Homo sapiens: one gene and its partners. The protein of the gene in region 2 purifies or fractionates together with the protein of the main gene of each other region. This does not show direct contact. Each region holds a gene or a part of one and is shown on either strand. Other genes may lie near its edges. The genes, in order: DNAJC16, CGRRF1, TMEM201, KIDINS220, PLEKHB2, EMC10 and ALG13.

What was found.
Region 1: the proteins of CGRRF1 (region 2) and DNAJC16 purify together in Homo sapiens (affinity purification with mass spectrometry, with the first as the bait; one large-scale study listed by BioGRID). This does not show direct contact.
Region 3: the proteins of CGRRF1 (region 2) and TMEM201 purify together in Homo sapiens (affinity purification with mass spectrometry; 2 studies listed by BioGRID and IntAct, with this or other methods). This does not show direct contact.
Region 4: the proteins of CGRRF1 (region 2) and KIDINS220 purify together in Homo sapiens (affinity purification with mass spectrometry; 3 studies listed by BioGRID and IntAct, with this or other methods). This does not show direct contact.
Region 5: the proteins of CGRRF1 (region 2) and PLEKHB2 purify together in Homo sapiens (affinity purification with mass spectrometry; 3 studies listed by BioGRID and IntAct, with this or other methods). This does not show direct contact.
Region 6: the proteins of CGRRF1 (region 2) and EMC10 purify together in Homo sapiens (affinity purification with mass spectrometry, with the first as the bait; one large-scale study listed by BioGRID). This does not show direct contact.
Region 7: the proteins of CGRRF1 (region 2) and ALG13 purify together in Homo sapiens (affinity purification with mass spectrometry, with the first as the bait; one large-scale study listed by BioGRID). This does not show direct contact.

What each region holds. Positions count from the first base shown.
Region 1 is NC_000001.11:15,543,462-15,547,945, reverse strand, and holds part of DNAJC16 (dnaJ homolog subfamily C member 16 isoform 1 precursor), read right to left. Parts: intron 3,548-4,484; coding exon 3,363-3,547; intron 1,180-3,362; coding exon 1,075-1,179; intron 1-1,074. UniProt on the Homo sapiens protein: Plays an important role in regulating the size of autophagosomes during the formation process.
Region 2 is NC_000014.9:54,536,161-54,540,088, reverse strand, and holds the end of CGRRF1 (cell growth regulator with RING finger domain protein 1), read right to left. Parts: intron 2,368-3,928; coding exon 2,260-2,367; intron 2,027-2,259; coding exon 1,706-2,026; 3' UTR 797-1,705; downstream 1-796. UniProt on the Homo sapiens protein: Able to inhibit growth in several cell lines.
Region 3 is NC_000001.11:9,604,972-9,609,455, reverse strand, and holds part of TMEM201 (transmembrane protein 201), read right to left. Parts: intron 1,900-4,484; coding exon 1,667-1,899; intron 1-1,666. UniProt on the Homo sapiens protein: Critical regulator of angiogenesis and endothelial cell (EC) migration. Promotes the migration of endothelial cells, which is essential for angiogenesis.
Region 4 is NC_000002.12:8,827,317-8,831,800, forward strand, and holds part of KIDINS220 (kinase D-interacting substrate of 220 kDa), read right to left. Parts: intron 1-4,484. UniProt on the Homo sapiens protein: Promotes a prolonged MAP-kinase signaling by neurotrophins through activation of a Rap1-dependent mechanism. Provides a docking site for the CRKL-C3G complex, resulting in Rap1-dependent sustained ERK activation.
Region 5 is NC_000002.12:131,128,575-131,133,058, reverse strand, and holds part of PLEKHB2 (pleckstrin homology domain-containing family B member 2), read right to left. Parts: intron 2,339-4,484; coding exon 2,299-2,338; intron 158-2,298; coding exon 68-157; coding exon of another isoform or gene 44-67; intron 1-43. UniProt on the Homo sapiens protein: Involved in retrograde transport of recycling endosomes.
Region 6 is NC_000019.10:50,479,150-50,483,633, reverse strand, and holds part of EMC10 (ER membrane protein complex subunit 10 isoform 2 precursor), read right to left. Parts: intron 3,524-4,484; coding exon 3,419-3,523; intron 3,054-3,418; coding exon 2,872-3,053; intron 2,751-2,871; coding exon 2,657-2,750; intron 1,774-2,656; coding exon of another isoform or gene 1,687-1,773; intron 1,486-1,686; coding exon 1,375-1,485; 3' UTR 1-1,374. UniProt on the Homo sapiens protein: Part of the endoplasmic reticulum membrane protein complex (EMC) that enables the energy-independent insertion into endoplasmic reticulum membranes of newly synthesized membrane proteins.
Region 7 is NC_000023.11:111,729,312-111,733,795, reverse strand, and holds part of ALG13 (UDP-N-acetylglucosamine transferase subunit ALG13), read right to left. Parts: intron 3,402-4,484; coding exon 3,369-3,401; intron 3,272-3,368; coding exon 3,216-3,271; intron 1-3,215. UniProt on the Homo sapiens protein: Catalytic subunit of the UDP-N-acetylglucosamine transferase complex that operates in the biosynthetic pathway of dolichol-linked oligosaccharides, the glycan precursors employed in protein asparagine (N)-glycosylation.

The DNA of each region.
Region 1 (4,484 bases), on a different chromosome or scaffold from region 2:
ATAACACCTTCCTCTCCGTCTCATGTCACAGTGACATGAGAGGTAGTGGGGAGTGTAGGTAGGCTGGGAGTGTAGTGGGGGAATCATTCACAGGGCAGGTCTGAAGTCAGTGGGAATCGCGCTCACCATGCTGTAGTGAGAACTTGGGTGGGTTATATGACTGCTCTAAGCCTCAGTATCTTGCTCTATGCAAACAGGGATAGTGGCCAGGCGTGGTGGCTCATGCCTTTAATCCCAGCACTTTGGGAGGCCGAGGTGGGCGGATCACTTGAGGTCAGGAGTGCAAGACCAGCCTGGCCAACATGGTGAAACCCCATCTCCACTAAAACACAAAAATTAGCCGAGCGTGGTGGTGTGTGCCTGCAGTCCCAGCTACTCTGGAGGCAGAGGTGAAAGAATTGCTTGAACCCGGTAGGCGGAGGTTGCAGTGAGTCTAGATCACACCACTGCACTCCAGCATGGGCAACAGAGTGAGACTTGGTCTCCGAAAAAAAAAAAAAAGCCCATCACAGTGGCTCATGCCTGTAATCCCAGCAATTTGGGAGGCTGAGGCAGGTGGGTCACAAGGTCAGGAGTTCGAGAGCAGCCTGGCCAACATGGTGAAACCCTGTCTCTACTAAAAATAGAAACGTTAGCTGGGCATGGTAGCACGCACATGTAGTCCCAGCTACTTGGGAGGCTGAGGCAGAAGAATCGCTTGAACCTGGGAGATGGAGGCTGCAGTGAGCCGAGGAGATCGCGCCACTGCACTCCAGCCTGGGCGACAGAGCGAGACTCTGTCTCAAAAAAAAAAAAAAAAGAAACAGGGATAGTATCTCCATCACTGGGTTCTTCTGAGGATTACATGATATGTGCATAGAAAGCACTAACACAGTAACTGGCATTAATCAGTACTCAATGTATGATGGTTATGTAAAATTTCTGGTCTTCAAACATTTCTCATGGATGAAACTGTTTCTTACAAAAAAGACAAATAGGCTATAAGTTCCAACTCAGAGATTACTTTCTGCTAAAAAAAAAAAAAAAAAAAGAAAAGAAAAGAAAAAGAAACCATTATCCTAGCATAGAAAGTACCTTGTATAACAGTGGCACAATGGGCGTTTGGTCAAACAGAAGGACATGAGGCTTATTCTCTTGCTGCCAGCCAGAGAGGAATCTGACGTAATTTTTATTTGTAACCTTAAATTGAAAATAGAATGTTAGTCTCAATATTTAATTCTTAACAATTGTATTATACTCCAGTCAGGAGAAAATAAACAAATCAAGTAAGTGTAAAAGATTGCAAAAAATAAAAATGCAGATAACTAATCTTTTTGTCTTCATTTGGCTAAAGCTATTAAAAGAATGGTGATATTGATTTCATATTTTCATTGAACTCTTACAGACTGAAATCATAATCCTGTCTGAAACAATTACTGACCATATTATAAAAACTGAGCTTCCAGAGTTGGTTCTTGCTTAATTACAGAGTATACTTCTTAATATACTAGCCAGCAGAAAATAACACACAACTGCCCCTTTCAATATCTATCTATCTACCTATCTATCTATCTATCATCTATCTATCATGCCTCAGTCTCCCATCTATCTATCACACCTCAGTCTCCCAGCTTGCCCCTCACCCTTTTTTCTGAGACAGGGTCTTGCTTTGTTGCCCAGGCTAGAGTGCAGTGGCATGATCATGGCTCATTGCACCCTCAACCTCCCAAACCTCCCAGGATCAAGTGATCCTCCCACCTCAGCCTCCTGAATAGCTGGAGCTACAGGTACATGGCACCATGCCTGGCTAATGTTTGCATTTTTTGTAGAGATTGGGTCTCAGTATGTTGCCCAGGCTGGTCTTGAACTTATGGACTCAAGCGATGCTCACACCTCAGCCTCCTAAAGTGCTGGGATTACAGGTATGAGCCACCACTCCAGGCCAGCTTGCTCTTTTTAAACGGCGTAAATAAAAATAAGCTGGTCCACCCCCTCTATACATTATATAATTTCATTTATTGTTATCTGAATTGTTACTTTCCTCCACTGATATCTTAAAATATTCCTGAGAGAAATTAAAAACATGAATAAATTATCTAGCTAGAAATTTTTCTTAGTCGTTAAAAAAAGTTTATCTTTCCATACTGCATCTAGAATGATTTATATAAAACTCAAATTTGATCATTTCACTCTTCTGCTCAAACCCCTACAACGGCTCCATGTGGGCCAAGGCCCAAGTTCCTTAAAGGAGCGTGAAGGTGCTCTGAGGCCCTCACAGGGAGATTCCTAATAACCTCTCCATCCCCCTCCTCTGCTGCTCACCAGTGAAAACTTCTTACAAAGCGGGCTATTTCATGTCTCCAGATTTCTGCCTGCCTGCAACCCAACCTGGTCCAAGGGTCACTTCTGCCAGGAAGCCTTTCCCAACTCATTACGATGGGCTCCAACATACTGGAAATAACCACCCGCTTGGGAGCTGCTTGAAACGGCTATGTTAATCTATGCCGGGCACAGAAGAGATATTTTATGTAAATGTTTGAGGATCTATCAGGACAATCTATCACCATTTTAGAAGCCTCCAATATTCTCTGACAAACTTTTAAGTTAATTCCAACAAATATTTCTCCTATAGATAATGATCCCAGTAGGACAGTCTAGGAATAGCACATGTAGAAATACGATGAAAATTTTTTATGTTCACTTTCCCTGTATTCTTAAGAGAATGAATTATTTAAAGCAAAATGAGAGTCCGTTCCTAGTTACTTTGATCCCTAAATTAAGATATTGAAAAAAACATATTAGGTGCTTAAATATGGAAATAATAGACCAATGTGAACTTTATCTGGCTTCTCTATTTCAACCTTTTCTTTGTGAAATTCATTCATATTATTGTCACTGTAAGTTTCTGAAGTTTCAAAAATAATATTTGATTTCATGGAATCTGGCATTTTCCATAGATATGATCGTTAAACATATAACCAAATATAATTAAATTTGCATAAAGACAAATATCTTCACATGAACAAATTTATGAGCCAGAAAGAAATCCCTAATTCTTTCTAACATGTGATTTAATTTTTTTGTTTAGAAAATAGGCACTGTCATTTTAGGCTCAGATTCCTATGACAGTGTAAGTTCTGCAAGATGGGTATTAATAGGAATTAATTCTTTCAGTCTCTGTACTTCATCTGTTTCAATTATTAGTCTCCTACAGACTTCACTTAAACGATTTAGTTTGAGTAATTAATTAATTAATAAGTGTCATGCCTTCCTCACAATGAAACTCAGGTTTGAGAGGACTACAGAAAATGTTCTGGGCAATTAACAGTCCTAGGTACCTCTTAAACTACTTCTCAGCCATAGTTTCCTTGACAGATACTTACTTTCTCCACCAAGTTCCCTGGAAGAAGACTTTCTACAAATTGTCGCAGATTTTCACGGACAACTGCATTGTGGAAGAAGGAGATTTTCCCGTTAATGATTCCTAGGATAGAGGGCGTGCTGTGTGCCCCTAGGTGATGGGCCAGGCGTCTCTCATACCCAGCATGGACCACGCCAATTCCTACACCTGAAAAGAATGGAAGATCCAAATGAAGCCTTTTTATGTCTCCATGGCAGCTGGAAAAAGTGCTAAGTAATTTTTTGGTGTGAAATTGAAATCCCGACCTCATAGGAGATGTCTTTCCTAATAGACTGTCTAGCATTCTTTCACTGCTGGAATTCTAGATTGGTTCAGTTTTTCTGTAGAGCAATCTGGCAATATGTAAGAAGAGTTACAAATGTGTGTGTGTGTGTGTGTGTGTGTGTGTGTGTGTATGCATATACATAAAACAAAATGGGGTCATCTCATACTTATTTCACTTAATACTTGAACAACTTTTCTTGTTCTTTCATCCAACCATATATTTGGAGGGCCAGTTACTCTGCTAACACTGGAGACACATTCAATATTAAAGGCCGATAAATGTACATTTTCTTTTGGATGTCTACTAGACTTCTCAAGCTTAACATTTCCAAAAACGAACCCCTAATCTCCTCCCACAGACCTGTCCTACCCACGTCTTTGCCATTTCAGTTGATGACAGCTCCATCCTTCCAGTTACTCAGGGCAAAAACTGTAAGCGTCATCTTTGGCTTCTCTTATCTGTTGCACCCCACATCCAATCTGTCGGCAAGTCTTGTTGGTTTTCTCTTTAGAAAATGTCTGGAATTCAACTGTTTTTCATCACTTTCATTATATGCCCTGCTCTGAGTCATCATTATCTCTCCTGCCTATGTTGCTGCAATAATATCCTAAATGCTCTCCCCCTATTTCTCCCTGTCTCCTGACAGTCTGTTCTTAACATAGCAGCCAGGCTGCTCCTCCTAAAACATAAAAATGGATCACATCACTCCTCTGCCCAAACCCTGCAAAGACCCATTTCAGCTGGAATAAAATGCACAATCCTCACAGAGGCCAACAAGACCCTTTGTGTTTGGCCCCTGGTTCCCCATGCCCTCTTCTT
Region 2 (3,928 bases):
TACTACAAACGAAGTTATGAAACATGGAATAAGAATGCAGGCTTGGTGGAGTCTGCTTCTGATGAGAAACCAACTAAGTGTCTAGGACAGTTAAGGTACAAAGAGATCTATAGAGAGGCAGCAGAGCTAGGATGGAGTCTGAATATTCCCCCAATTTACATGACAGATTTTTCAAGATTGTTATACTGCTAGTTAAGGGCAGCAGGGACTGCAGCTTAAGGGCAGCAGGGACTGCAGCTTTGGACTACCCTGCTTCCAGTGGCAGGGTTGGAACAGAGTCTTAGGAACTTCGGGGCGGGGCGGGGGAGTGGCAAGTCGGGGGGTTCTAATTAGCCATCAATGCTCTTTTTATGCTCAAATACCTGACATCAGGAGTCTTGCCTGATTCTTTGTAGCCCAGACTCTCAACAAGTATCTGGCTCCTAGAAGGTATTTATTACATAGCTAGTGAATGTAGATGAAAGTTTGATTTGGTTTATATAATGGAGAATAGATAATGTCTTCTTCAGAGTGCTATACCTGGTTGGAATGGAATTATATAAAAATGCAGATACAAAGGTAAGGCATTATTCTTAATACAAACAGGACAAAAAGGGGCTTGAAAAATCTCCCTGAAGGTCACAGTTTATTTGCCATGATCTGCTTTCTTGGTGAGTTATGATAATTCTCACTGAAAACATGGAAAGCTCTGATTTACCTTTTTCTTTTAGTTATCTTGGAAAGAGAAAAGGGTGGGGTCTTTCTGCCTACCAAGTTTCAAAATTCTTACAGACAGAACAATGGATGAATAAAGTAATTTACTATTCAGAAGAATACAGGGTTTATTTGGAATAAAAATACACTAGAAAAAAATAGTTATTTGTTTCTTTTAGTGATTTTTCTAGCTCTATAACCTCCACCTCCCACCTCAGTTCTGGATGGATTTGCTGTGCAGGCAGAAATCTAAGGTAAGGCATTAAAGGTCTCACAGATCTTCCCTGGAGATCACATTCTGCTAATCTAATCACACTTGACTATCAATTTAATAAATTTAATTATCCAAAAAATCTTATTATCCGAATTTTATATATCTGCCTCCTATAGATGAGTATCATTTTATAATACACGGAGAACAGTCAAGAATTATATCTTGTATTTATGATTTAAGAACCTATATTTAAAACTATGACCTGTATTTACGTAACTATAATAAGGGACATTAGAAACCAAACAGATGGATATTTATAAAAGCTGTTATTTCAGGAAAAGATCTAAAGAAGCTCATTCCAACTCCTTTGTATAAACTAGGGAACACACAATTACTTTAAGTAGAATTAAGTTTTTTCTTAATTGCACTCCGATTACATCAAAGGTAAAACATTTAGTGATCTTAAGAATTTAACCTCCTCAAATTTTCAATGGATTGCCTTTCAGAATGATTTTTCTAATTAACATGAGAGGAAATCTAGCTAATAAAAGGCCAAACTCTTAGATTCTTTTCAAGAGTTGAATGAATTTTTATGTATCAACACAGATGGATTCCAGTATTCATTCACTAAGCAGAAAGGAATAATTAATTTTTATCATCCAAGTACCATACAAATATGAAGTTAAAATATAATTTTCATTGATGGTCAGTACTGTAGATTCCATGTTATGATGAATTCCAAGATCATCAATTTCTGCATCTTTAGTAGAAAGTGTACTTTTCAGTGTTACGATGTCTTCAAAGAGTCTTCGGTTTGTCTTTATCTTGCTCTTTTTGACTGCAAAGTGCAAAAGATTCCTGAACAAACTGCCTGCACATTGGGCACTGCTGAAAATACTTCACACAGCCATCACACAGGCATGTGTGTCTGCATGGTAAGAGTACCCAGTTCACAGTCCCATTCTGGCAAACAACACAGTCCTTGCTGTTCTCTTCCGATGGCTCAACTTCACTTTCAGAGAGTCCCACCTTTTCCAACAAACTTCTGTCTGTGTTTTTTTCTTCTGAAGAGGAATTGTTGGAGGGAGTGAAATTATTATTTGCAGACATGAAAAGTTGCTGAAAATCAAAGAAATAAATTTAAAGATTATTATAAATAACAATTACTCTTTAAAATTGGGGGTCATAAGAAGCGGCTTAAAATTTATGAGCTAGCAAATTCAATTGCAAAGAACAGTTAGTTATCTTCTGTAATTATTAACTGAAAAATATAATCACCTTTCCATAAATGGCCATTCTTTGAAACTCTGTAAACAAAAGAGACAGAGATAAGACTACAGAGTACGGCTTACCTTAAGATCATGAAATTGACCTTGAGCCAAGAGTAAATATTGATACAATATTCTGCAGGATAGTTTATAAGTCCTATCAGGAATATGAATCACTGACACCATGGAAATCTAAAATAAAAATTGAACACTGGTCAGTACTTAAAATCTTTATATTATTTCACAAATATATGAAAAATGCTTTTCAACTGCTTCTAGACACTGTCTTCTGCCAAAAAAAAAGAAAAATGCTTCTCAAAAATAAAAGGCTGATAAATTAGAAAATTTACGTCAATCTGATTAAATCATAATCACTGCAGAGGAATCAGTTACTGACATATTTTTGGCAGAGTTATTTTAATTGTACTCAAATTTACAAATTTAATGCTATCACAATGGACAAAGGAATCTTTGAGAGGACTAAAGAAGGAAATGGAGAGGAATTAAAATCAGTATTAAACAGTCTTTTAAGAAACTTGGATGTAAAGGGACCAGAGAAAACACTTTTGCTTAGAGAGCTACATGCATTGACTCTAAAATTCTCATATAGAAAAATGAACACAAAAGAACAGCTAGAAAAATACTGAAAAGAGAGAGTTATGAGGGCGACTAGCCCCATCAGATAATAAAACAGACTACAAAGCCTTTAAAATTAAAACAGTATGGTACTGGCACATGAATAGACAGATGGATGAAACAGGATAAACAGTCCAGAAACAGACGTAATTATGTACAAAAATATAATAAAGGTGTGATGTCAAATCACCAAAGAGTTTTTTTAATAAACAGTATTGGGACAATTGGATAGCTATTGGAAAAATATATAATTAGATGCATTCCTCATACCATACATAAGAATCAACTCCAGAAACATAAGAGATCTAAATGTAAAAAATAAAACTGTACAAGTACTAGAAGAAAATCAACAAATTCCATTTTAGTCTCAGTGTAAGGAAAGACATTAACTACAACTCAAAACCCAGAGGAAATACACTTGACTATATAAGAATTAAAAATATACATGATAAAAAGCACCATAAACAAAGTCAAAACACATGACAAACTAGAATAAATATTCACAAGGTGTGTCACAAATTAAAGGTTAATATTCCTAATTTATGAAGAACTTTTAAAAACTGAAGAAAAATGGCCAAAATCCTATAGAAAAATGGGCAAAAGACATGAACGGACAATTCATAAAAAGATATAAACATGAGCCTTGACCATATTAAAAGATGTTTAATTAAAATTAATACTGCACCATTATTCACTCATCAAAGTAACAAAAATCCAGAAGCTTGTCAATACACTCTGTGGAAATACACTCTCATATATTGTTGGTGGAAATGTTTTTTTCCAAAAAGGTACAATTCCAATGGCAATATCTAACAAAACAACATGCATTTACACTTCAACCATACAATTCCAACAATATTAAGATATGTATATATGAATTATTCAGCATAAGATTATTTGTTACTGCAGAATACTGGAAACCACCTGAATGTCCAAGCACAGGAGACTGGCAGAATAACTATGGAATATGCACAGCATACACACAGTGCAGTGCCATGCAGCTATTAAAAAAAAAAAAAGTGAAGACAATCTCTGCAAACTGGTGTGCAGTGATTTCCAGATTTTCTGAAATGAAAAAGAGCAAAGTACAAAACAGCATATGTAGCATAGAGTATGT
Region 3 (4,484 bases), on a different chromosome or scaffold from region 2:
CCAGCCATCTAGTCCCACTTTCTCCACTAATTGCAGACCCCAACTGCCTGTTCTCTCGATCCCAGGGATCACCAACCACGCTGCCTTTTCCTAAATCAGGCGCACGCACCCCAAGGGCAGGGGCCCCAATTCCAAGTGGCTGGCTGAGAGCTGAATGTGGGACCCAGGGACTGCCTCATGTCCTGTTGCCACCTGTGGGCTCTGAAGGGTCTGTTGCAGCATGCAGATAACCCTCCCCTCACCAGGCCAGGGGATAGGCTGGATAAGGGTGGTCACAAGGACCCAGCATGCCAACCAGGGTCCTTCTAGAATCCATTCTATGGATGCTGGGAGAGGCCGTCTTCCTGCTGGGCATGGGCTGCAGGACACAGGGATGAGGTGTGTGGCAGAGAAGCGGACTGAGGACAGACAGGGAGACAGCAAGCTGGATTCTGGCCACAGCACCTGAGCCCGGTCCAGCGCGTCTCTGAATACATGAGCCAAAGCCCTGCAGGAACTCCTGCCCCCGACCCACCCTCTGGCGATGGAGACCGGGCTCCTCCCCCCGACCCACTCTGGTAATGGAGACTGGGGTCCCATCTGTCACCGGACACTCCAAGACAAGCTTGCGCCCCAAGACCTCTGCTGCTACCTCAGACAGGTCGCTACTGTGTCCCTGCCTTGAGCCTTAACAGGGAGATTGCCTGTTCTTCTCTGTGGGCAGGAGCCCCTGCCTTGGAGGCCTGAACTGGCCCTGGGATTGCCACGCTCCCCTCCCAAGGGGCTTGAAACAGAAGTCCCTGAGCTCTGCCACCTTGGTCAGTGCGCACAGAGTTTACTCGGAGTGCTCAGGCCCAGGGCAGGGCTGCTCCTGGCACCTCCCACCCCAAGTTCCATTCAAGTGCCACCAGGCTGGGGTGCCCTGAAAATAGGGGGGTATCTCTGCTTAGGGGAAAAGCAAAAGCATCCTAATATAAACCTTGGCGTGTGTACAAAATGGCCTGCCCTGTAACTGCACGAGAGGAGAGGGGCCTTGGCTGTTATCAGCATCTCCTCCCCTAGAATAACTAGAGTGGCCCCCTTTGCTGAGGGGCATGTTGCAATTTTAGAGGAAAAGATTAGGGCACAGCACGGTGCACACATTTACCCAAGGTCATGTCACCAGAGCTGGGACTAAGGGGCCGTGCTGGGGCTCCCAGATGATATGGCAATTCTGGGCACTTTATTTTTATTTTTGTTGAGACAGGGTCTTGCTCTGTTGCCCATGGTGGAATGCAGTGGCGTGATCATAGCTCACTGCAGCTTCCAACTCCTGGGTTCAACCGATCCTCCCACCTCAGCCTAAATAGCTGGGACTATAGGTGTACGCCACCATGCCCAGTTAATTAAAACAACTTTTTTTGTAGAGACAGCGTCTCCCTATGTTGCCCAGGCTGGTCTTGAACTCCTAGCCTCAAGCCATCCTCCCACCTTGGCCTCCTAAAGTGCTGGGATTAAAGGCATGAGCCACCTATTCCTAGCTAGCCCCATTTCTTTGGGGGGAACTGAGGCTCAAAGCTCTGTGCTGCCTGTCTCTGCAGCAGGAACACTAACCACTCCCGGCCCTCCCTACACTATGTACCCATCCACAGTTCTGTCCCAGCTGCCCCTAGCCCTGACTGTCTGCCAATGCCTGGGCACCCCTTACCTGCTCGAGTCAGAGAGGGTATGGTTCCCAGAGAGAGGGCCCGGCTGAGGCGGCCAGGCAATGAGGAGGGTGAGGTCCGTCGAGGAGACCGGAAGAGCTGCTGGTTGGCGAGGGGCAGGAAGCTGGGCGGGCTGGGGATGAACAGAGACGCTGGAGAGCCTCCGACACTCGGGTGAGGGATGGCCAAGCTGGGGCTGGTGGGGAAAAGGCCGGCAGAGTCTCCTGGGAAGAACCTGCAAGGGCCCGTCAGGCACGGGACAAGAAGAGGGTCAGCGGGAGGTCCTGGAGGCAGCCTTGCAGTGGGTCCCACCCCTCTCCCACAGTGCAAGGTGGGGGCCTCAGCTGGGGTCCCAGAGGAGGCGTGCGTTAGTTAAAGCAGAAAAGCAATCCGACCACATTCACGCCATTAGGAGCGGGTGGCTGGGAGGTGCCAGCAAGACCCGGCCCTCCCCACATGCCCCCTCCTACCCCCTCGGCTCACAGCAAACTATCTCCACTACGAGTCTCGGTATTAAAGTGACACTGTCGCCTTTGCCAACCTCATGCCAACCCTTTCGCCTTGAAGCAAAAATGCCCAGCCCCGTGCCAGGCACTCAATGAAGGTTAATGGACTTGGACTCCTTGCCACTTCTTGTTCTGTGCCGAGCCTTCCCACAGAGCGGCCGGGCTCAGGGACATCCTGGCTCATCTCCCAGATGGGCCTGGATCATAGGAAGTCAGGCCCCAGCACGGCTCTGGGCACCCTCTGTTCCCAGGTGTGATTCCTGGAAGTCCTCCCACAGCTCTGCCCTTAGAAGGCTGCCTCCTGCTCTCTGGCCTTGCACTCTGGAAACTCCTCTGAAGTTCCTGGTAGAGCAGAACTGGGGGGCAGCCAGGCCTTGGAACCCCCTGGAAGAGGCTCTCACAGGACAACGCCAAAACCGAACTTAGAAGAGACCCATCCACGACCGCAAGGCTGCCCGAAAGACGGAAGGTGACAGTGTCTCTTTAACTCGAGATGGTACAAATCACACAACAGGACCTGATGGCCCCACGCCAGAACGTCAACCATGCTTCTGATTAAGGCACCCAATTACAGAGGGAAGAGAGGGACAGAGGCAGTTAATACATTAGTCCACCGTCTGGACGGAGCTCCGGGGGTCCAGCCTTACCTCGGTGCCAAGGGACAAATGAGCCCAGTGGACAACGTGCTGGTGAGCGGGCAGGCTGGCCCACGCCCTGCAGGAGCCGGGGGCTGCTTAAGGGACCTGCGCCCAGCATGACTGCATGCTCGGGGATCGCTAGCCAAGCCGCGCGCCACCAACCTCCCTGCTACTTTCCCTCTAAAAAAGTTTTATAAGGAAAGTGTGGGGCCAGCTCTTGACTTCCCGGAGAATCATGTAACCTTTCTAATGCCTTCCAAGGTGCCAGGAGACCACCTGGACTTCAGAACCAAAGGCGAGGCCATGTTTGGCGAATGTGGGCATCAAGGCAGGAGCTGAGCTGGGGACCCTGGGGAAGGCCCCGGTCAGCCGGACTGGACACATCCTTGTTCCGCCTGCTGACCTGTGATTCCCAGGCCCAGCGCCCGCTGCTTGCCCCCAAGACTCCAGGGAAGGCTCCACCTCTACACAGAAGATGAGGTTTTGTGTCGTCATGTTAGAATTCTGATTCCATTTGGCGGGACAGCGCAGCGACTTCAGGGAATGACCCTGAGGGCACCTTTAGGCAGGGGCAGTGAAGGTGTTGCTGGGACCTTGGGGCATGACCCTCCATGGGAGGGAGTTTGTGGGGCAGGGCTCTGCGCTAGGCTTCCTGTGCCCACCCTGCCCGGCAGCACAGACATAGCCAAGAGTCAGCCAAGGGTGACCAGGTCCCCCAGTGACCTGAGAGTACCGTTGGGGGATGTGTGAAAGGAGGGTCCTAGTGGGCTGTGGGTATGAGGTGGTCAGCTGGGCCACGCAGCTCCTGGCCCCAAAGGGTGGGCTCTAGCAGGAGTGGCTGGGTCTTGCCAGTGCATCCCCACTCCTCCCAGCTCCTGCTCACACCACCCGGGGCTGCCTCAGTGCTTAAAGGCTGAATCTCCTGGCCACCTGGCACAGGGGCTGTTGTTCCCAGTTTGGTGCCACTGAAGATGGTGCTGTGGGGAGTTCCTTCGCAGTTTGACTCCCTCACTGTGATATGTGGGAACATCACTCAACCAGCAAGACCTCGTAAATCGCTCACAGGGCTGGGCATGAGGGGCTGGGCTCTGTACAGGCGCCCCAGCGAGCCTCCGCCAGCTAAAGGAGCCCAATCTGTTGGACCCTGGAGAACTCCAAAGGTGCTAACATTTCCTTTGGCGAGAGACCCCCCCCGACTGCCCTGTGCCCTCAAACCACGTCTCAGAGAGGGACTAAGAGACCAGGATCAGGCCTGGATGCTGGCTCTGGGGAGTGTCAGAGAGGGACTAAGAGGCCAGGATCAGGCCTGGATGCTGGCTCTGGGGAGTGTCAGAGAGGGACTAAGTGACCAGGATCAGGCCTGGATGCTGGCTCTGGGGAGTGCCGGAGCGGATACGCTCATCTGACACCAAGGGGAGATGTCTGGTCTTCTCCGACCCAATCCCAGCCCACATCAGGAGTGGAAGGAGAGAGACCACGTTTTAAGCAACAGTTTATTGAGACGGAAAAAATATGATCCAGCAAAGGCGAGGAGGCGAGCCGGGCCCCGAGCCAGCTGGTGTCATTGTCACTGGCTCCCAAACCTGACTCCTGTGGACGTGTCTGTACCCCAAACACAGCTGCCCACCCCAGCCCTGGCACAGAGCCCTTCTGAAAGAAAGAAAAAAGAAGAAAGA
Region 4 (4,484 bases), on a different chromosome or scaffold from region 2:
TCACCTCCATCTTAACTTATCCAAACACCAAACTCCACATCCATCCCCAAACCCTCCTCATCACCACTCCAAAATGCTCCCCTGCTCCTCCTGCTGTCACCATGCCAGTAAACGGCAGCTCCAGGTCCATTCTTCCAAGGCCAAAAGCATTGAAATTGTTCATGACTTACCTCTTCCTCTTACACCCTACACTCAATCTATTAGCAAATGCTTTTGGCTCTACCTGTAAAATACATTTCACATCTGACTACTACTCACCACTTCATCACTGCCACCCTGGACGAGCCACCGTGACTCACCTGCGTCACTATCATCGCTTCCTAACTGGCCTCCCTGCCTCCACTTTACCTGGAAGAGTGGATTTTAAATGGTCTCACTGCAAATAAATAATTAAGTATGGGAGGTGATGAATATGTTAATTAGCCTGATTTGATCATTCCACAATGGATACATGTATCAAAACATCACATTGTACCCCTAAATATATATAATTTGTCAATTAAAATTACATTACTTTTTTTAAAACTTTAACATATATCAGAATCACCTGAAGAGCTTTTAAAGCAGATTCCTGGGCCCCACCGTCAGAGATTCTGACTCAGCAGGTCTGAGTGGGGCCCCTGACTCTGCATCTTTATCCAGCTCCCTGTGACACTGACAACACTGAGGAAGAACCACAATGTGAGCAGTACTAAGTCAGAGCATGGCCTCTTTTATTCAAAGCCCTCTAAGGGCTTCTCGGGGTGCTCAAAGTAAAATCAAATGTTTTTACCTTGGCCAAGATAACTCTTCAGTGGCAAGCCTCTCACCTGTGTGACACCTGTGACTGTAGCTCCTACCACCCCCTCTCACCCTCCTGGCTGCATGGCCACACTGAGCACCGTCCCACCTCGCCAGGCCTCTGTGCTACTTTTCTGTCTGCCTAAAATTCTCTTCCACAGGACATGCACACGGCTTACCCCCTGACCCCGTCAGGTCACCTGGTTACAAAGTCTCACCGGATGTGGGATGTCAGGGTACCGACCCCACACAGGCTTCACTGTCACCCTGCACTCTCAACCCTTTGTCCTGCTTTCACTGCTCTCCACACCACTTGCCACCATCCAAAAAATGACATATTGTTCACTTATTGTCTGTCTACCATAACTATAAGTTCTAAAAGAGTAGAAATTTTATTATATTCAACTGGACATCCAAATGCAAATAAATAAACCTCAATCCATACTTTGTACCACATACAGGTGCTAACTCAAAATTGACCTAAATATAATGTCTGAAAGTACAAAACTTCTAGAAGAAAATATAGATGACTTCAGTGACCTTAGATTAAGAAAGATTTGATATAACACTAAAAGCATGGTGCATAAAAAAAGAAAACTGATAAACCAGAGTTCGTCAAAATTGAAAACTTTGGCTGTTATGAAAATGAAATTATTTGGGACTGGTGAATCCTCTTTGCCTTCCTTTTCCTCCACCCTTGAACAGGACTGTCTATAACTGATATCCCATGCCCATTCCCTAACTCTAAGTTGGAGCAGATAACTTGATTCTTGCGTTTCCCAGGTGGAAAGGAATCATGCCTCTGGATGGACTACACCCAGACCCTCTCATACCTGATTTAGATGATGAGATTTAAATGAGACTGTGGACTTTGGGTTGATGCTGAAATGAACTGAGACTTTTGGGGAGGCCTTGCGATGGAGTGAATATGTTTTGACACAGGAAGGAAATCTATCTCTGGGGGCCAGAGGGCAGAAACTATAGCACTATATGATTCTACTTATATAGCATTCTGGAAAAGGAAAACTGCAGGGGCAGAAAACAGATCGGGGCTGCCAGGGTCTAAGGCAGGGGAATGAGATGGCTACAAAAGAGTACAAGAGAATTTGGCGAGTTAATGGCTGTTCTATATCTTGACTGTTGTGGCAGTTACACAATCATTCGTTTGTCAAAATTCAGAACTGTCCATTAAAAAGGGTGAATGTTATTACATGTAAAGTATAAATCAGTATACCTTACTTTTAGGGAGTATATATTCAGAACAACTTGAATTTATACTCTTGGGGTGAAAAACTATTATTTTAAAAAATGATGTTATTTGATCCCATAGTTGCACTTCTAGGAATTATTCTAAAAACATGAGAAACATGAACAAAATTTTAAGATTTTAAGTAAAACAATTTTATCCATAAGAACAAAAATCTTAGAAATGGATATTATATAAATTATAAAAATTCACAAAGTAGGATAATATACAGTCATCAAAATGTCTCAAAAAATGTGTTACAGAAAAATGCTCATGATAGAAGAAGTGAGGTAAAAGATTAAGAGCTATATATACAGCATCTCAGCTATTTTAAATGTATACATTTTTAAATACTGGAAATAAAAAAAGAACAAATGGTGATGGGCATTAGTGTAATTTTTATTTTCTTTAAAACCTTTATCTCCTACATGTTCTGGAATGTGATGCTTCTATCATTAGAAAGCAGTGAGGGTTTGTATTAGCAGTCATCACCAACACCTACCTTCATTTATTCCCACTCCTTCTAGGATCAAGCCTAAGGCCTCAGTGAGGTTTGCAGGATCTGGCTCTCCCTCTATACCAGCCCCAGCTCACCCCACAGCCCAGCCAAGCAGAAGAACTCAAATTCACCACACTCCCCCAGTGCTGCTCCACACTCCCGCCTATGCTCAATGTGCTCCTTCCATGTAGAACACCATCCTCATCTCTACTCTACCAAGGCACCCATCTCCCTCTGAGTCACACAGCTACCATTTTTCATCCAGTTTACCCCCTAAAGTGTGAGATCACCCAACCCCACACTCAGTGCCTTAGTTTAGACCTTCACCATCTATACTAATCAAGACCCCTAAGGTTGCAAGAGACTAATTTAAACTAGCTTAAGCAAAACAGAAAAATGTATTTGAAGGATAATGGTTTATTTCCCATAACCACACTACAGGAAGAGTGGGTGCCACTGGACCTCAAATGCCAGGAGGATTCTCTTTCTCTACTGGCTTAATCTACTTTCCTTCTAGACCAACTACTTCTACACAAAGGGAAATATGGCTTCCCACAGCCATCCAGCCTCAAATCAGATCGTTTATTTATTTTTTGAGACAGGGTCTCACTCTGTCACTCAGACTGGAGTGCAGTAGCACGATCATGGCTCACTGCAGCCTTGACCTCTAGGGCTCAAGCGATCCTCCCACCTCAGCCTCCTGAGTAGTTGGGACTACAGGTGCACACCACCATGCCCAGCTAATTTTTCTATTTTTTGTAGAAATGAAGTTTCACCATGTTGCCCAGGCTGGTCTCAAACTCCTGGGCTCAAGTGATGCGCCTGCCTCTGCCTCCCAAAGTGTTGGGATTACAGGTGTGAGCCACCGCACCTGGCCTAAATCAGATAGTCTCTAACACCAGAGAAAGCAGGCTATTCTTTGTTCCCAGATCCAACAGTCCCAGAAAAGGGCTCTGACTGCCCAGGCTGGATCTGTTGCACACCCAGAACCAAGCAACTAGAGACACAAAGTTGGGAGGGGGTTACAAGGTCACACCATATTGGCACTGTTTCCAGAAAAGAGTAAACAGTTGTGATCTAGGCATCAATCCTAAAAACTTCTACTACACCATCTCTCACCCAGATCAATGTGACAGGCTAGCAACTTTTGCCTCCTCTCTCCAGGCCTGCCACCTGCAATCCATTTGCCACACTGAAGCAAGAGTGACCTACAATACATCTCTCCTAAAACCAAGGTTGGGAGGACAGATGACAGCTTTACTACTTACAAGTTATTCAAGGAACTTACGCCTTCTAAGGCTTTTAAAGCCATTGTAAAGATGCAAATACACAATTCCTACGGAAAGCTTTGCTCTCCACTGAGCAGAGTGAAAACTCAGTAAGTTCAATTCTTGATTATGATGAGGGCATGCAGATTCTTCACAATCTGGCCCCATCTTACCATTCCAGCCTTATCTTTCTCCCCTCCTCAGCCCCATCCCTCCCACCCTCTACATAGTCACATCTACACCTCCAGCTCCAGCCAGACTGATCTACTTGCAGCTCCTTCACTGCCCCACACTTTGTTCTTTCCAGACCTTTGCACTTAATGCCCCCTCTGCTTAGAAAGTCCATTCTCCACGTATATATGCCTGAACAGCTCCTACCCATCCTTAAGAACATGGCTCTAACAGATCTTCTGGAAGCCTTCATTGACTGGCTGCTTACCCCAAGCTGGGCCAGGCCCTGGGCTCCTCCACACCTGTGTATACATCTAGTTGTAGACTGCTCACATCACACTCAACTCTCCTCTCCATTTTACTCACTCTCTCCACATCTCCCTTAGACTAGAAGTTCTTGCAGCAGGATCTGCTTTATATCTAGCACAATGCCTACACAACAGGAGGTGAGAGAGAAAAGCAGCCCCTGACTGTCGGGAACTGACCCGGCACACACAGCCAGACTTGGTGTTCTAACATA
Region 5 (4,484 bases), on a different chromosome or scaffold from region 2:
AAAACAAAGCAGGACAGCAGCAGAGACCCCAAACTTCCCTCACCTGGAGGCTCAGGGTTCTCCCTACCTCAGGGGCCGGTGCAGCATAGGCCGTGTATGGTGGAGGTGAGGAAACCACGGATGTCTCATCGGTCATGACTGCAGAGCCCACATACGCCTGCGGGAGACAGGAGAGGGTGAGGACAGGACAGCTTCCCAGCAGCTGTGTGCTCGATGCTGTGCATTGTCCCTTTTATTTAGCAAATTAAAAATTTAAAAAAACAAAAAGATACATAGCTCTCTGCAAAACAGGAAAAACTCCCCCAGTCCAGTGGGGGCCCCCACCCCTATTCTGGTATCCTCTAAATGCAAGAGCAAAGTGGTCCTCACTCGGCCCCTAACAGGACTACAGCTCTCACAGCCAGGAAGGCACTCAGAGGCCCCACTGTTACCCAATGCCTTTTAAAAGATGTTACATCAGGCCAGGTGCAATGGCTCACACCTATAATCCCAACACTTTGGGGAGGCTGGGTGAGAGGATCACTAGAGCCCAGGAGTTCCAAGGCCAGCCTAGGCAACAGAGGGAGAGCTCATCTCTACAAAAAACAAGAAATTAACTGGGCATGGTGCTTATGGCCCCAGCTACTCAGAAGGCTAAGTCTCAAGGATCACTCGAGCCCAGGAGCTCGAGACTGCAGTGAGCCAAGATCAAGTCACTGCACTCCAGCCCAGGCAACAAGGCGAGACTGTCTCCAAAAAAATAAAGATGTTACAGCACTCTCAACAGTCCTTTATTCACAAATAAAAACTCTACAATCTAAAATGTATCAAGAGATATGTCCTATACATAAGTCTGTTTTTTACCTTAAAAAACAAAATTCTTCATTAAATTACTCCCCAGTATAATTTAAAGAAAAACATGTTAGCTCTTTAAAAAAAAAGAAAAAGTGGCCAGGCGCAATGGCTCATGCCTTTAATCACAGCATTTTGGGAGGCCAAGGCAGGCAGATCACTAGGTCAGGAGTTGAGACCAGCCTGACCAACATGATGAAACCCCATCTCTACTAAAAATACAAAAATTAGCTGGGCGTGGTGGCACGTGCCTGTAATCCCAGCTATTCAGGATTCTGAGGCAGGAGAACTGCTTGAACCCAGGAGGCAGAGGTTGCAGTGAGCCGAGATCGCTCCACTGCACTCTGGCCTGGGCGACAGAGTGAGACTGTCTCAAAAAAAAAAAATCCACACAAAGAATCATTTGGGGAGCTTGCCCTTAACTGTATGGATTGTTAATGCTAATTTTACCCAAAAAAAAAAAAAAAAAGGGGGATTTTCATGAAGAAAAGGTAACTGCGGCTGTAGAGTAAGCTTAGAATGAAGTTGTTGTGTGCTAACAAAGGAAGAGAACACTGACGCTATTAGGATATTAAGCCTTTTACTTTCTTCTCCCACATGCACACATTCTTCTGTAAGCTTGATCCACCTTCTTCTTTTCTTACAGATTAATAAAGGAGAGAAAAATCCCATCTAAAGAATGAAAACTCTGACCAGAGTAACACACTCCCTTGATCACTGACAGATAAAGACAGCATTACGAGGCTCTACAAATGAGGTTCACTGTCTCAGTGACCTCCTAAGGCCAGAAACAGGACGAGAGACAAGTACAAGTCACAAAAATGTTTGTTTCACAGGCTGAGCTCCCATGCGTGAAAAGGATCCTGCAGTTCTTTCTAAGCCTTTACTGCAAACCACAGCACAATTCAAAGTGTTGCAGAACTTTGAGAAATACAAGCATTTCTAGAAAGCAACACTGGAACAAGCATGCCTGTAAGAGCAGGGTGCCTCCTGCCAAACATTTGACAAACCCAGCTTGCTCACTGTTGGCAAAAGGCGCCCTGCCCAGCACTACCTGCCCATTCGTGGCCAGATGGTCAAGAAACCCGTTTTCCCCATTCTCCAATTGTTACACAAGACCATGTGAAAACATTACTGGTGGCCGGGTGTGGTGGCTCATGCCTGTAATCCCAGCACTTTGGGAGGCGAAAGTGGGAGGATCACTTGAGCCCAGAAGTTGGATACCAGCATGGGTAATATAGTGAGACTTCGTCTCTACAAAAAAATTTTTTCAAATAAGCTGGGCGTGGTAGCATGGGCCTATAGTCCCAGCTACTGGGAAGGGGAGGCTGAGGTGGGAGGACTACTTGAGCCCGAGAGGTAGAGGCTGCAGTGAGGTGAGACAGCACCACTGCACTCAAGCCTGAGTGAGAGTGACACCTTGTCAAAAAAAAAAAAAATTATTGGTGATTGCCATTAGCAACTTACTGTGTTTGTCCTAGAATCTTGGAGTGTAAATTTCCAGGCCCTGGAGAAAAGAAAAAGGGTACTTTATTTAAGGCAATCCAACATTGCAATGATTCTGAAACCTGGGCTGGCATCAGAATTCCTGAAAAGATCTGTTTAAAAAACAAGTCTTCAGGCTTTGCCCCAAACCACTTGAGACATGCACTAGGAATATATATTTTTAAAAATTACATACATAATAGATATGTAATATTTAAAACATAATCTATACTATACTTTTTACTTTACTTTTTAATAAATGTGAAATGTACTGCCACTTGCTTTGTCAGTTCATGGCATACACACAGATCTACTTCCTTTTTACCAGCTATATAATATTCCACGATATGAGTAAAAAATTTAGATTAGCAATTTTTCAACATTAAAAAGAATGCTGGGGACCGGATGTAGTGCCTCATACCTGTAATCCCAGCACTATGGGAGGCCAAGGCAGGGGGATCACTTGAGCCCAGGAGTTCAAGACCAGCCTGGGCAACATAGTGAAATCCTAGCTCTACAAAAAATATAAACATTAGCCGGGCATGGTGGCGCATGCCTGCAGTCCAAGCTACTTGGGAGGCTGAGGTGGGAGAATAGCTTGCGCCTGGGAGGTCGAGGCTGTAGTGAGCCAAGATCACACCACTGCACTCTAGCCTGGATGAGAGAGAGGGGCTCTATCTCAAGAAAAAAAAAAGAAGAAAAGAATGCTATTAACATCCCTATTACCCTTACACTCTTATGTAAACATCTCCACAGGGCAAATTCCAAAGACTGAAAATACCACATCAAAGGATAAAAACATAATTTATTTCAGCAGGTATTGCCAAAATGCCCTGCAAAACGATTCTAACAATCTCTATACCTACCAACTTTACACTATATTGTCAAAAAAAACTAGATATCTGAACCTTAAGTATCACAAGAGCTTTCTTAATTCATAGGCAAAAAGCAGTCTCTCACGCCTGTAATCCCAGCACTTCGGGAGGTCAAGGTAGGTGATCACCTGAGGTCAGGAGTTCGAGACCAGCCTGGCCAACATGGTAAAACCAAGCTTCTACTAAAAACACAAAATTAGCTGGGCGTGGTGGCACATGCCTGTAATTTCAGCTACTCCAGAGGCTGAGGCAGGAGAAGTGCTTGAACCCGGGAGGCAGAGGTTGCAATGAGCGGAGATTATACCATTGCACTCTAGCCTGGGCAACAAGAGCGAAACTCCATCTCAAAAAACAAAATAGTGTTCTCTTGTGCACTCCCTCACTCCTTTACCCCTTACTTTTCTTACTGACCCTATCCCTCTTATCTTCATCAATTCCTTTTATGTTTTATTCTCATTTTACTATCTCCCTGAGTTGAAAGATTCATTCACTTATTTTCAAGTGTTCTGGCTTTCTTTTTTTTTTTTTTTTTTTTTTTTTTTTGAGATGGAGTCTCACTCTGTTGTCCAGGCTGGAGTACAGTGGTGTGATCTTGGCTCACCGCAACCTCCACCTCCCAGGTTCACGCCATTCTCCTGCCTCAGCCTCCCAAGTAGCTGGGATTACAGGTGCCTGCCACCACGCCTGGCTAATTTTTGTATTTTTAGTAGAGACGAGGTTTCACCATGTTGGCCAGGCTGGTCTCGAACTCCTGACCTCAGGTGATCCATCCGCCTTGACCTCCCAAAGTGCTGGGATTACAAGCTTGAGCCACCACACCCAGCCCAAGTGTTCTAGCTTTCTAAGGAATGCAGTTAAGTTGCAAAATTCCCCAACTGATTTTGTATGTGGCATACCATTGTCATTCACTTTGCTAAAGGGTATCATACTGGATTATTCATATATCTTATATAGATTTTGTTGTCATATCAGGTGGAAGAGTCTAGTAGGGACTTTGGTCTGCCAATTCAGTTCGATTATTTCAGAACATTTTTCTTGCCTTAGATTTGTAATTCTCTCTTTTGGGTTGTACACTTTATGGACATCAATAATCTTTCTGAACTTTTTTTAGTCTAACATATCTCTGATCTTTTCATCTTTTTCCTGTCACTGAGAGTATCTCCAGTCTTTTCTTCCATGCCAATGATTCACTTTTCATTTGGGGTTGTATTGAAGGGAAGACCACTTTCTTCAGATTATAACGTGAATGGCACCCTCTTGACAGCAACAGACCTTCTAAGTTACAGACACAAA
Region 6 (4,484 bases), on a different chromosome or scaffold from region 2:
TCAAGGTACCGCCACTGCACTCCAGCTTGGGTAACAGAGCAAGACCCTGACTCAAAAACAAAAAGAAGTGATGGGAGGGAAGGCAACCTCCCACGGTGCACCACCTCCTGGTCTTGACAGTCGACTCACAAACCATCACTTGTTTATAAACGCGTTTCCGATCTGCCATCGTAATTCCATTTTAGTCATGCATCCCGAGATCATTCAAACCACACCCAAGAGAGACTGGACGACAGCACTCACTAGGGTGCTATTTATAACCATACAATGCAGGAGGCTAGCTGCGTGTCGATCTGGGGGACAGTTTAATAAACTGCCACACAACACAGCTGAGCTCCACACAGCCACATGAGGATGGGGACAGCCATTCCTTGGGTTTCTGAATAACGTATCAAGTGAGCAGTGAATTTCAATCAAGCTTGTACATCAGGACCGTCTTGCCAAAACAACAGTTGCTTTTGGCTGCTGGAAGCTGTAGCTTTTCAAAACGTTCACACATTTCAATGTATCGTCGATGTTTTTAAATAGACTTACAGGGAGGGTGGCACACAGCAAAGGCCCGCAGGCCCTCGTAGCACCGCAGTCCAGGTAGGATGCTGGGCGGCGGGGGGTGGTGGAGGGGGTTCTATTTACAGTGTCTGGGCTTTGACTCCACTAACTGTTGGTTTTGTTTTCTTTCTTAAACCTTTTCCTTCAAGTCTGGAAGCCTGTGGAGGGCCTGTCACCTTAAAGGCAAGGATTCCTTGTTTGCACCAGGCAGACAAATGTCAAACCACGACCCCAGGGGCTGCACTAGGCGTCGGGCCCAGAAGCCCCCGGCCATCCAGCCCCGACTCTTTCATGCCTCTGCCCCTGATGAGGGGACCCAGGGTACCCTCAAGGGGACACAGAAGGGAGGCTGCATCCTAGTCCAGTGTCAAAGTGAGGGGGGCGCTGCAGGAGCCTGGACAGGACCACCTAGCCCAGCCAGGGACAGGAGGGTGAGACCACCTGGAACAAAGGCACAGAGGCTGGAGAGAAGGCGGCATGTTCCCAGACTGCATGGGCTCGGGGTAGGGGGATGCGAGGTCAGAACTGGCATAGTGGCCAGGATCTCGGGCTCTACTCCATGGGCAGGGGGGAAGCCCCTGGGGCTGCATGGGGCCATGGGGGAGGCGGGCGCAGGAGACACCGGCTGCTGTGCCAAAGGCCCCAGTCCAGCTGCTCCTCTGCCAGCAGAAGGCAGAGGACAAGGGGCTGGCCCAGGTGGCCTCGTGGGACGGGGGGAAAGGAGGGACCAGCAAACCCTTCTTGGGATGGCTGAGGACACAGGGGACTCCAGCAGAAAGGGAGGCCCCTGGGTGTGCAAGACGGGACGCTGACCAGCCTGGGCCCTCACCGGCCACTACCCCCACCACCACCCCCACCCCCACCCCCACCCTGGCCCCCGGTGTCTGGCGCTCCTGACATCATGAGGAACAGGACGACGGGAATGATGTACATCCACTGCAGCCGGACGGAAGGATGGACAGACAGACACAGAAAGAGAGAGAGAGGGGAAGGAGGTGAGTGTGGGCATCACCCACCCACGGTGGGGACCGGCATGAGGGGAGGTCGCGTAAGGGGAGGGCGCCCAGGTCCCCTACGTCACTACAGGTCAGGGAGGGCCAGTGGGGCGCAGGGAGGGGCAGGGGTCTCGGTCCTCACTCAGGCCTCCTGTGGCGGTGGCGCGGGCCCTGGCGCAGCAGGACGCAGGGCTGTGAGCAACACGGCCCCCCCCAGGATGATGTGCCACTGGGGAGGGAGGGAGCGCAGGTCAGGGCCAGTGGGCTGCCGTGGGGCCTGAGGGCCAGCAGGGAGTGGGAGGGCGCTCGAGTGGGCAGCAGGGCAGGGCCCAGCAGGCAAGGGCTCAGCCTCTGGGCCTCAGTTCCCTGCAGCACAACTGTTGGACTATCCAGGCGGAGCGGGTGAGGCCCTCAGGCAGGGCACTCAGCACAGCAGGGCTCAGCCATCCCAGCCTCAGCATCCTCCTAGCCTGCCTCGGGCCACACAGACCTCTTCGCTGGCCTTGGCCTGCCTGGGCTCCTGTGCCACAACCTAACACCAGTCTCCACACTCAATGGACCAGAGGCCTGGGTGGAAGCCACCTCCTCCGGCTGTCCCCAGCCTCCCCACCCCACGCCTCAGCCTCTAAGCCCCCGGGACTCAGACCTGCTGCTGGCAGCACAGGCCCCTCCCTCCTCAGCTCCAGGAGGCCTCCCAGGCACCCTGCTGCCCCCAATGCCCCTCCCTGGGCCACATCCCTCCCGGACCCACTCCTCTCTCCTTCCTGTACAACCCCCTGAAGAACCTGCTCGCCCCTCCTTTCCAAGCCTCCCTGGTTCCTTTGAAACCTCCACTGTTCCCTTCCTCTCCAGCCTCATGGCTCCAACCTAGCTCAGGCCGAGACCTCCCCCAGGACCCTGCGCCCTAGAGCTGGCCCGACCTCCCCTGACCACACTTCCATACCCTCTTCCTGCAAACAAGCCTCAGCCCAGGTACCAGGACACACAGGAGGCCCGGAGGACAAGGAGCAGGCCCGAGCACCATAGGGGAGTCTGGGTGGGAGCATGGAGGGCCTGGCCAGGCACCGGGACTGTCAGGAAGGGAATAGGGGAGGCGGGGGAGCCCCACTCACGTATTTGGCGAAGAAGGACTTCTGCTCCTGGGGGTTCTTGGCCTTCTGGGCCTGTTCCATCTCCAGGCGCTCAATGAAGGCCGCCGTCTCAGGGCTGGGGCAAGGGGAGAGGAGGAGAAGGGTGAGGCCCGGAGTCCAGGGACCTGGAGACCCTGAGGCCGCCAGGAAGGGCCGGGGCAGGTGGCAAGAGCGCCGCGAAGGCAGCAGAGGCTCACCCTGGGGCTGTGGTGGGCGGCTGCAGCTGCACCGAGGTGTTGAACAGCTCCAGGTCCACGTCCTCCACCTCATGGCCCCGGCAGCCCCCGGGGTGCGTCACCACCGACACGCCCACCACGTTGCCGGCCACATCCACGTGCAGGGTCAGCTGGTCCGACAGGTGCGACTCCACCAGGGAGCACTGTGGGGGGAGTGGGGTCAGTGGAGGTGGGGAGCCTGCTGCCTGGGCTCCACCCTAACCTCCCCCGGCCCCCACCACAGGACCCCCGGAGCATTTTTCAAAACCTTCCCATGGCTCCCTGTTACCCTCAGGCCCAAGTTCAACCGCCCCCCACCCGGGAGTCCTCACAATGCTATCCCCATGAAAGCACCCGCTACCTGGACCGACCCCTCCAGACCAGGAGGCCTCGGAAGGCAAGGCCAGGTCTGAGTCTCCCAGGCCTCTGCGGGCTCCAGAAACACAGGGGTTCGAATGGTGGAAGCAGGACCAGGGTAGGGGATGAGGAGGACGAGGGAGAAGGGGGCTCATCCCCGACACCAACTCACCGCAGGGACAAAGGAGGAGACATAGCCACCAGCTTCCAGGCCATCCAGGGCCCCGGGTCGCCTTGGGATCCGGACCCGGTACAGGCCATTCAGGGCTGCCACATCCTGGGGATGGGAGAAGAGGGTGCTGGTCAGAAGGATGGTGTCAGCCCTGGACAGGCTGTGATGCCCACCAGGCCTCCGCGAAGGCCCCTCTCCAGCCCCACCCACCTCACGGCCCACACTCCCCAGGCCAGCCAACCTGAGTCGACCCAGGACTCTTCCTGTTGGGGTGGCCCGGCTGGTGGGTGAGGCCAGGAGCAGCTGGGACCGCCCCACCTAGGGGAAAAGCCACCACAAGGAGGGCAAAGCCCAGCCCAGCGATGGAGTGGGTCCTGAGGACGCCTTCCCTGTGCCTGGATCCAGCTGCACCTGGCGTCCACCCTATGCCTGGACGTACCAGTTACATGCATAATAAATTCTGTTTGGGGACAGCTGTGACAAGAGAATCATGTGGGTACCATGCAGGAAGGGTGCTCAGGCAGACCTCACCGCGTGGCCACCAGAATCAAGCCTGCACTCCCCAGCCTCCCTCACAGCTACATCTGGCTGATGGGTGGAAGTGGGTTGTGCCAGCTTTTGCAAGCTTTCTCTAAATGCTGCTGCTCCTTCTGCCCCTCTTTCTCCCTCTCTATCCTGCTGCCTGGAGCCCTGGGGCCTCTCTGCATGACCCCTGCGGAGGATTGAGCTGGGCCCTTGAGGCTGCCACAACACAGGGCGACAGAAGTGAGCTCCTGTCCAACCATAGCTATTTTGAGGCTTTCTCCTCACAAACAAATCTCATCTAAGTGGTCATGAAACAGCTCAGCTGATCTGGAAAAGAAGAGGAGCCGACTGTGTGAACCTGCAGGGGAAGGGGGTCTGCCAGCAGAGGGAGCAGTGCAGGAAGAGGCCGTGATGCAGGACACCATGCCTGGCGGCGCTAAGACGAACTGCAATGCCGTTCCTCCAGGGGCAGTCATTGAGGACAGAGGCTGAGAGTGGCAGGTGGTGCTGGGAGCCCACCTGGGCCTGGAGGGAAGGCTGC
Region 7 (4,484 bases), on a different chromosome or scaffold from region 2:
AAAAGGGAACGGTTTTATACTGTTGGTGGCAGTGTAAACTAGTACAACTGTGTACACTGTTTTCCACTATGGAAAACAGTGTGGAGATTCCTTAAAGAACTAAAAGTAGAACTACCATCTGATCCAGCAATCCCACTCCTGGGTATGTACCCAGAGGAAAAGAAGTCATTACACAAAACAGATACTAGCACATATATGTTTATAGCAGCAGAGTTTGCAATCGCAAGAATATGGAACCAGCCCAAATGCCCATCAATTAATCATCAAGTGGATAAAGAAAATGTGGTGCATATATACCATGGAATACTACTCAGCCATACAAAGAAACAAAATAATGGCATCTGAAGCAACTCAGATGGAATTAAAGACCGTTATTCTAAGTGAAGTAACTCAGGAATGGAAAACCAAACACTATATGTTCTCACTCATAAGTGGAAGCTAAGCTAAGGAAGCAAAGGCATAAGAATGATACAATGGACTTTGGGGACTCGGGGGAAATGGTGGGAAGGGGGTGAGGGATAAAAGACTATACATTGCTTACAGTGGTACACTGCTCAAGTGATGGGTGCACTGAAATCTCAGAAGTCATCACTAAAGAACTTATTCATTGTAACCAACCACCACCTGTTCTCCAAAAAACCTATTGAAATTAAAAATTAAAGACAAAGAGTTTTTTTTTAATGTATGCTGATAATTCTGAAGACATTTATCCTTTATTTTAGCAACAATAGAAATTTGCTATGGATTTGGTGATGGGGGCAGAGGGCTTGGAACATATGAAGAGATTGAAAGCTATTGAGGTTGTTTAAATTCAGAACAAAAAGGAACATGTGACAAGTGAAATTGAAGGAACAGAAAAAAAGTATTCTTGTCATCCCTTGTGGTAAGATTCTTACTTGGCTACTTCAAGAGGTGATATCAAAAGCACATGATATGAGAATAGTAATGGTGGCAGGAAATGGGGGAAAAAACTTTCTCTGGAAGGAGCAAAGTAAGGGAAGGAGAAAGAACAGAAAGAGAATTACGTATCAGAGTTTTCTTCTCCTTCCTAAGGTATATTGTCTAAACAGTAAAAACAAAAATTTAGTACATGAAGCTGCCACAGTTTAGTCATAATTAGAGAATATAAGGTAGTTATTCAAGTTCTTCATAAATATTCCAGATTTCCTGAATAGATGGTAGGATTGCCCTTCCCAGCTCCATCCAAAGTCAAGAATGACCATGTTACTTGGTCAATAAAATATGACCAGAAATGTCAGTGTTCAATTTCTGTATCTTTTGCCCTGCTGTGATGATCATGATGGCATGTGTCCATCAGCCTGGGTCCCTGGGTGACTATGAAGAACAGTCATAGTCTGGCAGCCTGCTGCCAACTCGCATTGAACTATATAACATTAGCAAGAACAACTTTTCCTGAGTTAAGCCACTGAGATTTTGGGGGGTTGTTAACTGCAGCATAACCTAGCTTGACTAAAACAGAAATTGGTAACTAGAAGTAGGGTACGGCTATAACAAAATCCTAATTGAGAAGGAGATTATGAACATGTAGCTCTTAGGGTAAGCAATTTAGAAGACATGATGTTAGTATTGTGCTTTGATAACTGTTGGCATTGTCTAAAGCAAGTTATTTTAAGACAGGTGTATGTAGGAGAGAATTAGTAGTTTGCAGGCAGGAATGAAAGGGAATAGATTCCTTGCATACAGGGACTCACAGGGTTGAAGGAACAACTGTTTCAACCCTAAACTATAAAAGGTAATATTGATGAATGGTTTGAACAACGACAAACAGTGAAAACTCGACCTCGCAGCAAGAATGAACTCTTTGGTTAAAACCCGAGTGTATTAAGATGTCTCAAAGCTAGAGTTCAACTAAGGATGTAACACCTAGTAAATCCTTGCACTTCAACAAAATGGCTTGTAGAAAAATGTCCAAAATGCATGGCTCTTCCATCAGTGCCTGATAAACTCAAGCCACTTGCAATCAAATAGACAGAAATATAAGGATAAAACCACAAAGAATTATAGCAAATCTTAGTAGTATATCTATAGAAAAGAACTGTAGTATGGCTATTGGTACATGAAACCAAAAGAAATCAAACAGAAGCAGAATAAATTAATCTTACAGCCAAAGAAATCACGAGCCAGAACTAAAACCATTCAACTGAGATAAAACCACCCTTGGGCCTCCAATCTTCTGTAAGTAGCAAGCTTAGAAAGCTGCTCGGTTGCCAAGGAAGGATTATTCTCCAATGCCTACTCCAAACACTGCCAAGGAAGGATGGGCCTTGGGAGTAACCAAGAGCCCCAGAAAATGAACGAGAGTTCCTCCAGGGAAGAGTCCCATGAGTATGTTGGGGGCCCTTACAACGTCTGCCCATGAAGGTCTCAGAATTGCTACAGGCCAATAACTGTTTTTTTCTCCCTTTATGAATAGAAATTTCAGTCCCTGCTTCAGCACTGTAAACTGGGGAGGGAGGGGGAAAAAATAAAACCTCTGTATTTTTGGTTTTAAGTCTCAAGATCACAAGAAGCTACATCTGGACCCAATATAACAAGTACTACACATAGCCCAGAAATCCTAGGCTTTGAGTTTGATTACACTGAATGGGACATTTTAGGATGCCTCCTTTGAGACAGAAACAAGTATTCTGCCTATGAGAGGGAGGGCAAGTTGAATGATATAGTTCTTAGCGCTGTTAACATGTTTCTTTTTGCCTTCCAGCACAGAAAAGTTAAGACTCTTCAGTGGGACCTGCTCTGGCCAGTGAAATGGAAAAGAAAGTGACATGTATCACCTCTAGTGGAAACTCTAAGAGCCAGTGCACCATTTACCGAATTTTATTTCCTGCCTTGGCAATTGTGGATGAATTTCCATCAGCCTAAGTACCTGAGCAAGCCCTTCTACAGACCTCTACTAGACATGTAGCATAAAGGAGAAGCAAACTTTTGTTATATTGAGTGAGATGTATCATCCATTCTAATAAAAAAATCATAATAAAACCTTCTAAAAGATCATTACTGCCTATGTTAGAATATCTCTAAATATATTAGTTCCAGAACACGAGTTAATTTCTGTCTCAATTTCATCTTCAAAATGAGAATGATACTAAGCCTCACAGGGTTGTTCTGATTTAAATACATTTATATGTATAGCTCTTAACAGTGCCCTAGTACATAGTAGGAGCTATAACTCTTTGCTATTATTAAATACCTACCAAGTTTGCTGTAGATGCAGTTGTGCTATAAACACCTGAAGTTTCATAGTCTGGCTCTAGAGAATATAGCCAAAGTAAAAAATGAGCATTATTTTATAGCTTGAAATTCTATAAACAATGATGAATGCCAGATCACTTCTAGATCTTACTGACCTGCACGATAAAGATATTCTTCATGATATCGCCCTGGGGAAAAAAGACAAGACAGAAGAAATGTGTTTATATAGGTCTTTTTAGCTCAGCAGAGCCAAATGGCCAGCACTTGCTTTTTCCACCAGTTTTATGGTTATATGTTCAAAACTAAAATGCATACATCCTGAAAAGTGATATGAGCTTTCACACTAGTCAACAGATATTGAAGCCACAGACTAGCTGTAAGCTGTACAAATTTCTCCTCTGAAAATCCACTTAGCTCTTAGAGGTCAGGCAGAAGTGAAAACTCAGTTGTGTCCAATTTTTCCAGTGAGGCTACAGTGTGGTGATTAAGCACATAGGCTCTGGAGTGAGGACTGCCTAGATTTGAATTCTGATTAACTACATGACTTTAGGCAAGTTATTTAATCTCTGTGCCTCAATTCTTCACTGTAAAATGGAGTAACAGTACCTAGCTCATAGGCCTTTTGAGGATGGTTAATGGAAGTGAAAGTAACTTAGCATAGTGCTTTACACATACTAAATACTCAATGGTGTCTATAAAGTATGAGTATAATCCACTGTTTCCTTAGGTGGACATTAAGGGAACATGTATGCCTCATCTGTTTTTCAATCTGTTTCATGTAAGTAATACATGTAAAATGAGTGTGTCCTCAAAGGATGGCTCAGTAGACTGAAGTACTTTTAAGATTTCTGTACCACTGAAATGCAGAGAAAGTCAATACTCAATCGGACAGTTTTCCACCAAATATAAACCCGCAGTTCTAAACTAAATTTGATTCTTAAACACACCACTTATCAAACACACACGCATGAAACTCCTCCAGATTTAAGGTGGGAGCAAAGATTTGGTTATTTCAAATATGCCACACTACCCATAGAGCTAAAAGACAAAAGGGTCATCTAAATAAGAGAGCAGACAGTAAATGTCCTTAAGCACACGCATGCACACACGTACAAAGTTTTCACAGATCATTCTTGCACTAGATTTTTTTACTCATTAAATTCCTAAAAATATCTATTTTTTTTCTACACTAGTAGAAAAAAAGAGTACAAGAAAATAAGGAACTTATTCATAAGTCAAGTCATTAGGAATGCCTGACACCTCCTTAAGCC